Linked DNA regions of Homo sapiens: region 2 is reported to be linked to region 1. Evidence: microRNA targets listed by miRTarBase, many of them from high-throughput screens and not tested one by one. Region 1 holds a microRNA gene; the other region holds the end of a gene's coding sequence.

Region 1 (4,000 bases):
AAGCAACAACAGGAAGCAGAAGTACCGTGCAGTCAGTTGGCAAAGAAATTCCGGATCAGGGCAAGAAAAAAAATAGGGAAAGGGGAAGGGGAGAAAAGAAAAAAAGTAGCAAAAAAACACAGGTCAGTAAATACATAAGAATCAGGTAGTGTTCTATCAGTCACACTCCACACACATTCCAGTTACAGGTTTACCTCGACGGGCACACGGTAAGAGAAGCACCTTCACTCACATGCCGGCAGAGACAGCGCTGCTGGAGGGGCTCCCAGAAGCCGATCCCAACCACGCCCCCCAGGAGCGCGCGTGCAGCTCCGCTCGCGGCCACCTCAGCCAAGCCCTGCAGCAGCGCTGTCTCCCGCAGCTGTGGCACAAGTCAGTCTCTAAGGACGATTACAGGCGTGAAGGGAGATCGAGTCTGTTAGTGCACGGCCTCGCTCAGGAGGAGCTGGAGGGACAGCACCCGGCTCGTGGTAAGAGGCACAGGCAGGGAGTGCGTCCTGGGCCCCCGCGAGGGAGGGCCAGGCTGGGCACCGCCTTGAGGAAGTCACAGGAGTTGCCGGGAAACAGAACAGCCTGAAATGCTGATTCCAGGAGGATCCCATCCATCAAGAGTTACATATTTTGGGCCTCTTGTTTCACCCAAGCTCTCCCCGAGGGGAATTTAACCATTCTGGGAAATAACGGATCCACCAGTTAAGTGACAGGCTCTCGAGCCACAGGGGCTGCCCACACCCCGCCGCGCTAACCCTGTGTGTCCCGCTGACCAGCAGGGCGGCCTGCTGGGGCTCTGAACTGCGCGCCCTGCTCAGCTCCAAGTAATTTTTAGATTGCCTTTGGGTAACCAAAAAATAATTCATTCTGCGTATCATGCAAGAGAAAACGCGAACCAAGATGTGAATTCAGGAAAAGAGGAAAACTCAAGCCATCTTGGAAAAGGAGGGTCTCAGCGCTGCAGCAGAGGGGCTGCCAGGGCAGAGGCGCAGACACAGCGAGGGGCGGCGCTGCTCCGGGACCCGAGCCCGAGCACAACATCCCCTGCTCGCTCTTCCGGGAGGAACGGCGGCGCGGAGGAAAAGCCCACGTACCTCTGGGTTGAGGTTGCTGACCAGCAATACAGAATTTCCTGCCCCCGCCAGGCCCGGGATGGCGATCCGACCTGCCGCCGCAGCTGCCGCCGCCGCCGAGGGGATGGCCAGGGGGGCCAGGGCGCCGTGGACGTTCGGAACGGAAAGGCCTGGAAAAGCAGGAGGTGAGATGAGCGGCGGCGCCCCCGACTCCACCGCAGAGTGGGAGAGGCCGACGCTCCCCGTCCTCATGCACCGAGGAGCCGAGCCGCGCGGGAGGCGGCCCTGGCTCTGGCCCTACCCTGGGTGCCTGTGGGGTCGTCCGACCCCCGCACAGCCACCCGCCGGCTCCTGCACCAGCGCCCGCCTCTCCTCACAGCACGGGCCGGGCCGGGCCTGGGCTCATCTGCATGCGCCCCGCCCACAGCACAGAAAAGCTCCGGCTCCGCCAGCACAGACACGGGGCCCTCGGCAAGCAGGGCCCGTCCCGGGACCACCGCGCATGCGCGCCCATGCCTCCATGCAGACGAGGCGGCCGCCGGGCGGCACGCGCTGCTCCGTCCACGGCCAGCACTGGGGCGGCCGGGCCCCGGTCCCAGAAGGGAAGCGGGAGGACGGCCACGCACACACGTCCCGCCGCCGGTCATGCTGCTCAGCCTCGGGCCGCGCGCTTACCAGGCCACTCAAATTCAACTACTAGAGACATCCCTCCAACCACTGGCGGTCCTCGCGCTCGCCCGGAGGTGCTTGAAGGGAACCAGACCACAAAGACTGTGCGATTAGCGGCTTCTGGCTGGCGCCGTCCACACGTGGGCCTCCACAGCCCTGTCCTACCACTGCCCTGGCCAAGCCTGCTCTGTGGACGTGGCGTCCCCTCTCCCGGGAAGGGCCCCTGACCTGGCACTCGAGTGCCCAGTCCGCCCAGGCTGCCGCCGTGGATGCGGAGCTGCCTGGGAAGGTGGTGTGGGCATGCAGTCGCTGGGGAACCAAGACCAAGCGTTTGAATACCTGCAGCTTGAGGAATGGCAAAGGTGGGAGGGAAACCAGCTCCTGCATACGGAGAGGCTGAGATTATACCAGGTGCACCTAGAAATAAATGAGACACTAATCATCGCACCCACAACCTCCACCGCGAGCGGGCGCTGTGCTGCGGGATGGGCCCCAACCCGGCCGGCGGGCGGCCCCGGCAGAGCCTTCGCGGGCAGATCCGCTGCTCCAGGGGGGGCCGTGGTCCCGACGTGGGGGACACTGGACCGTGCTGTGCTGGCCGTGCAGAGAGCAGCAGGTGCATCACCCTGGTGCAGGGCCGGGCCCGTGCCGCCGGGGCTCCGGACTGAGCGGCCCTAATAGACCACTCTGCACACTGGCGCCGCGTCGGGCAGCCTCTTACCGAAGGCCGCGGCCATGGTCTGGTCCAGCGAGGGCTGGCTGTCCCCGGAAGGCAGGTCTGGGCGTGTGTAGTCACGGCTCTTGTCATTGTTGTACTTGACGTTGAGGCTGGTGAGCTTGGAAAAGTCGATGCGCAGCGTGCAGCAGGCGTTGTAGATGTTCTGCCCGTCCAGCGACTGAGGGGAGAGGGACCGTGAGACGTCGCCGGGCCAGGGCCAGGGCGGGCGCCGTCCCGGGAGCCCCACTCACCAGCTTGGCGTGCTGGGCGCTCACGGGGTCCGCATACTGCAGCAGGGCCTGGAACTGGTTGTTCTTGGTGAAGGTGATGATCTTCAACACTGTGCCGAACTTGGAGAAAATCTGCAGGTCCCGGGCCACAGCATGAGCTCCTGCCCGGTGCCCACCAGCCCTGCCAGGCCCCTCCCGTGTGCCTGTGCCCACAGCAATAGCAGCCGACCTGCCCTGGCGGTGATGGGACCACCTCACCTGGTGCAGCACATCCAGGGTCACAGGGTAGAAGAGGTTCTCCACGATGATCCTGAGCACGGGGCTCTGCCCGGCCATCGCCATCCCTGCGTCCACGGCCGCCGCCGAGGCAGCCAAGGCCAGGTTCCCCGACTGGACCGAGTTCACCGCCTGCAGGGCCGCCTGGGCCCGCTGTGGGAGGCACAGCCGTGAGTCCCCGGCCCCTGCGGCTGGGCCCACCCCCGAGGTCCCCGGGCTGCTGGGGTCCGCCGCGGGGCCACGCACCGCCTGGTTGGGAGAGCTGTCGGTCTTCAGCTCCTTGTGGTTGGAGAACTGGATGTAGATGGGCTGGCCGCGCAGCACAGGGGTCACCGAGGTGTAGTAGTTCACCATGGTGTTGGCAGCCTCCTCCGTGTTCATCTCGATGAAGGCCTGTTGGGGAGGCAGTGAGCGCTGGGCCCTCCTCGTCCCCGCCTGCACGGTGTGAGCACCCCGGAGAAACGCGGCTCAGGTACCTGGTTTTTCCCCTTCAGCATCAGGAGGTTGGTGACCTTCCCAAAGGGCAGCCCCAGGGAGATGACTTCCCCCTCCGTGACGTCGATGGGGAGCTTCCGGATGTGGATCACTCTAGAGGGGACGCCTGCACTTCGGCTGTCACCTTTGAACTTCTTGCTGTCATTTCCGTTTGCTGAAAAGGGGGTGCCATGAGATGCAGGCACCAACTCGCAGGAGCCCACAGAGGAAGGTCCCTGCTATCCCCCTAGAGCCCTGCCTGCTACGGAGACCAACCCTGAGCCCCAGGAGGGTGCATGTGAACCAGCAGCGCGAGAGGCCAAGACCTGCACAGTCAGGACCCCTGCTCCCGACAGCTCCTGACAACCCGCCCACAGGTCCAAGTGCCAGCCTGGACCATCCATCCAGCGCCTCCCTGGAAATTCTCTGCAGCGAGAACTTGGACCTGGGTCTGTAGCGTGGACCATGGGCCCCTGCAGTTGGAGATGGAAAGTAGAGTCCCAGAACAAGAACGTAACGTTGTTCCAGGGAAAGACACCCACGGGTCTTGCCCTGGGCCGAGTCCCGGC
Region 2 (4,454 bases), not on the chromosome of region 1:
CCTTCCTTCCTTCCTTTTTCTACAGCTTGGAAACCTCTGAGAATTTGCTGGGGGTGGCAGAGGAGGGTTTGTCTAGTTTGAAGGAAGGAATGTTGGTAGACAGTCTCCAGCCACGAAAGCCCAGGAGGTGCCCTCTTCCACACAACAGACTAAGCACTACACCCACTTTCTTTGATCCAGAAAGCATCCCTACTGACCCTGTAACCTACACCCTCTCTGTCCAAAGAACAGAGGCCGACCAGAGTTGCCAGCCTGGAGAGGCACCATGGAGATGAAGCTTGCCCTTTCTGCACTCAACCCCTGCAGCCTGAAGGAGTGTGAGACGATGAAACCCACATGTGCCGGAGCCCCTGCAGAGGTGTTCTCACACCCTCAGCGACCTGTGCACAGTGGCCGGATCAGGGGTGGGGGCCTGTCATACTGGGCGCTCCTTTCTCTGACGAAGTAACTGTATGCAACTCCCAATTGCTACTTCCTGAAGCACCTGCTTTTCAGGGAACCAGTGTCTTTCTTGGTTTAAAAAATAAATAAGTAAATATTGGGGGACCTCTTAAAACACTTAATACTTTTCAGAGCCTCAAAGGCAAAATTCACCTGGCTTTGAAGCCAAATCTGTATGGTGCTGAGAATGAAATCTGTCCGTCTAAGATGACAATAAGACCTTCCAGGGAACCAGGCAGAAAGGTGGGCAGGTACAGTGGCCAATTTCCCAGAGAAGATCCTCAATATCTGACTTTTGAGAGAATTTAAATATTCATTCTTCAAATTAAGGAATACAAGTGAACAACCTGAAAAGATTTTTAGAAGCTCATTAGCTGTGTGTTATTTGAACGCAAAAATGAGGAAGAGATATGAGCAGGAAACAGGAGAGTATAGGAAGGCAGGCCAGGGTGCAGCCAGGCCCCAGCAGGGGCAGAGCGGGAAGCAGCGAGCGGAAAGCAGGGGAGAGACACCGAGAAGCTGCAGTGTAGACAACCAAACCCTTTATTGTCTAAGTTACATTAGACGCAACACTGTAAAAAATCCTGTTAAGAAACAAGGAAACAGCAGATCGGGAGAGGTAGTAGAAAGTCTGTAACAGTCAGAAGACAACGTACAGAAGTGTATCATGCAGAAATTACCATTCGGAAAAAAAAAGGCAATCAAAACGGTGGCTAAATAAATAAGGAAACACAAATCATATTAAATACTATGACCAAATCAACAAATTAACAAACCAACACAATACTGACGATGGGTGGAAGGAAGGGACCACACATCCAGGCCTGCCCACAGCTGGCCTCAAGGGATGGCGTTCTTGGGGGGGCTCCCCAGTCTGTTTAACTGGGTGAAAACCTTCCTCCTGCACTCTGTGCACCCTGCGCGGCCCCGCAAGCTGACTGTCCTCCACGCCTGCTCTCCTGCAAGCCAGGAAGGATCCAGCACGCGGCCGGCAGGGCCCCAGCGCCAGCCCACTCCCCACCAGAGCCTCCAGGATGGAGCCTCACCAGCAAGACACTTCCAGCTCCAAAGGCCAACTGCACTTTTCCATGCCGCTTCTGAAACAGTAAAAATGTAGACTACACTTTCGTGTCACTTTGGGTACAGAATTTCTTTTTAATAACTAAAACACAGAGAAACAGGACTGGGTCACTAGTCCCTGACATTCCTAACAGTCACCATTCACTTTCAGCCAAGAAAACAAAAGCCAGAAAATGCAGAAATGATCACTGTGGGGAAACTACTGAAATGATTAAACATAAATCAACAGAAGAGTCTTCTGATTTCTTAGGTGGACAGAGGAATGTGTCTCCGCAACTTTGCCCAAAATAACTTTACAGAACAGTCAATTACAGTTGTTTAACTGTATCTGCATGGACATTCCTAATTACACCAACAGGACAGATCATTTTCGTACATATCTGGTGTAAGAATATCAGAAAAAAATAAGTAAAAAAAAAAAAAAATATATATATATATATATATATATATATATATAAGCTAGCCAGTTACATTGCATCGTTTGAAAGTGTTGCAAAGTAACCTGAACCGTCAAGTAATTTAAACTCAGTAACAAGTAGAATCCAGAACCAAACATTACTAATAACAATAACAATAATAATAATAATAATAATAATAATATAATAATATTCAACAAATCATTAGAACAGGAAACCCACACTTTAGGGTGTGTGTGTGTGTTTGTGTGTGTGTGTGTCTGTGTTTAAACAAGACTTTGTATCAGAAGCCCACTGTCTACAAAAACTGCACTAGTCCATTACCGTATTAAGTAAACTGTTGCTCTCGCCAGTATTAAAGGTTAGGATAATTTCTGTACATGTAAAATTATTGCTTTTTTGAAAAATATATTTAGCATGCTCGTTTTAATCCATTTCCTGCCTTTACAAAATTTCACAATTAAAAAAAAACCTAGTAAAGCTTTTGCAAAAAATTTCACAGAACATTTTCATTCAAGGCAGCAGTAACTTTTGATAATGCATAAAATCATATGTGCAAAAATCTGAAACTCTCAGAAATATTACCATCACACATAGTGTCACGGCAATGGGAAAAGAAAATATTTATATCTGTGGAATACCATTTCAATTGCGTACACTGCATGGTTTAAGATCCTTTGTTATGGGCCTTAACCCCCACCACAAAAACTCGCATTTGCATTACTGAGGAAGAGGTATATGAAGCCGTCCCCCACCCAAGGGGCTGGTGATCCCCACCCTTTATGAACAAAGTCACTCATCCTGTGGAGGTCACCAGGCCCAGGGAGAAAAGACACCCACTTGCTGGGGTGGCTCAGGGAAGGGGCGGGGAGGCAAAGAGTGGGGACAGAAGGCGCCAGAGCTCAGCACCCTAGTCATCTAGGGCACCTGAACCTGCTCAGGGATTCTTCTGCCATTACTAAAACAGGTCCGAATCGGGAGGACTCAGTGGCTAAATAATTTGTTAAGACGTATAGTCTTCCTTTGTAAGCAGTTTGCAGAATGTAGCCCTGTTACAAAAAGGTCCTGAGAATAAACAAGAAGCCTGCTTTTCTTAGTGTTGCGCTAGCTCTCTTCCGAGGCGGAATCTACGCATTCCCACAGACGTGTCTCCTTTGCCAGATTCGCTCAGTTCGAATGGTGGGAAGAATGGAACAGGCACACGGCCCCAGGGAGGAGTGCGATGGAGCCAGTGAACAATGAGGGTCTCATCATCATACCCCTCCGCCAAGCCTGCTTCCCACAGCACCTGAACGTCACCTCCTTCCTCTCTCTTATTTACTATTTTAAATACCCACTAAGACAAGGAGAGGCAGTAGTATTAATACTCGATCAACCTCAAATCCACCACGTCTTGTTCTGACATCATCCCCACAGTCCCTCTTAACATGGGAGGCCCCTGTGACAGTGCTCAGCCTCGCCACTCTGTCCAACACACACAACAAGTATCTTTTTTTCCAGTGTCTCAAACTTGTCTTGAATAAGACAGATGCCTTGTGCCCCTACTGTGCCTGCCAGTACTACTGTTTATTATAAGAAAATATGGGACTATGGACGATGAGCACGTAAATGCGTATATAGTATCTACATGTATTTCTAGAATATAGCATCTTCATTTATTTCTGAACGTTTAACAAGGAGAGGCATCTGCCTTCAGTTTCCACTCCAGCGCAGCGGCTCGGGATGTGAGGTGTCTGCTCAGGAGTTCCCCGGCTGTTCTTCCATGGAGCGGCCAGGTCACAGGTGGGAGGCTGCTGGGACATCGTGAGGGTACTGCTAATGGCCGTTACGGGGACCTGGGGTGCGTCGGAAACACGCCTTTAGGTTCCCTTTCTCAGAGGCACTGTCTGGACGGTACCTGTGTTAGAATGGTCTCTCCCCTGGGTGAGAAAAAGGAAAGAACAGGAGAAAAGCTCATTTCTGCCTTTTGGTTTCTAAATGCATTTTTCCTATTAATTTTCTAATCAACATCCAAGAACACAAACAATGACCTTCACAAAGCAAGCCAACCAAGTAGGCGAAGACCCCCTGACCTGAGCTGTAACTCATTTCATAAAATGAGCAGCAAGTATTTCAAATGTGCCTTCCTGCCTTAAAGAGAGGCAGCTTGAAAACGAATCATTTCCAGTGTGATTTAGAAAGGATCATTAGGCTTCTCTAATGGTTTCACATGTAAGAATGGCAGATGATAGTGTCTGAACCAGCTCTGGAGAGAAGGTTACAAGTTGGCAAGATGAGGAGGCGGCCAGATTGTAAAACTGTATAGTACAAAGCAGATTTACAAGTGAACGGTAGTTCCAAAACAAGGCTGAATTTGGGGGTCATACAAACAAAAAGAAGAGCACGGCTCTCACGTAGGTCTGTCAGAACTTCAGAGCGTGTTCACCCATTTCCATAAACAATTACCAAGTTGGAAAAAGGGAAGGAGTATTCTAAAGTGAACTGCGAGAGAAAACCAAGCATAAATGGGGGTCCACA

Evidence for each region. Region 1 holds the annotated microRNA hsa-miR-4745-5p (UGAGUGGGGCUCCCGGGACGGCG, at 2,679-2,701, opposite strand). A microRNA usually pairs through its seed, bases 2 to 8, with sites in the 3' UTR of a target mRNA and lowers its output. Matches are read on the target gene's strand: a 7mer-m8 pairs with bases 2 to 8, a 7mer-A1 pairs with bases 2 to 7 and ends in A, and an 8mer does both.
Region 2: miRTarBase lists ZNF516 as a target of hsa-miR-4745-5p. Seed matches in the 3' UTR shown: 7mer-m8 at 2,815-2,821.

Annotation. Positions count from the first base shown.
Region 1 is chr19:803,642-807,641 of GRCh38, reverse strand. It overlaps MIR4745 (microRNA 4745), which reads right to left and starts at 2,702; the gene lies at 2,641-2,702. PTBP1 (polypyrimidine tract binding protein 1) reads right to left here. Exons shown (of 15, transcript NM_002819.5): 4 at 3,434-3,606; 5 at 3,204-3,350; 6 at 2,940-3,110; 7 at 2,703-2,813; 8 at 2,455-2,629; 9 at 2,073-2,150; 10 at 1,086-1,234. RefSeq lists an enhancer at 3,885-4,000.
Region 2 is chr18:76,358,702-76,363,155 of GRCh38, forward strand. It overlaps ZNF516 (zinc finger protein 516), which reads right to left. Exons shown (of 7, transcript NM_014643.4): 7 at 1-3,856. The coding sequence ends at 3,797. Among named protein-coding and RNA genes, the nearest start is that of ZNF516-AS1, 130 kb to the right of the region's middle. RefSeq lists enhancers at 3,177-3,678, 3,679-4,178.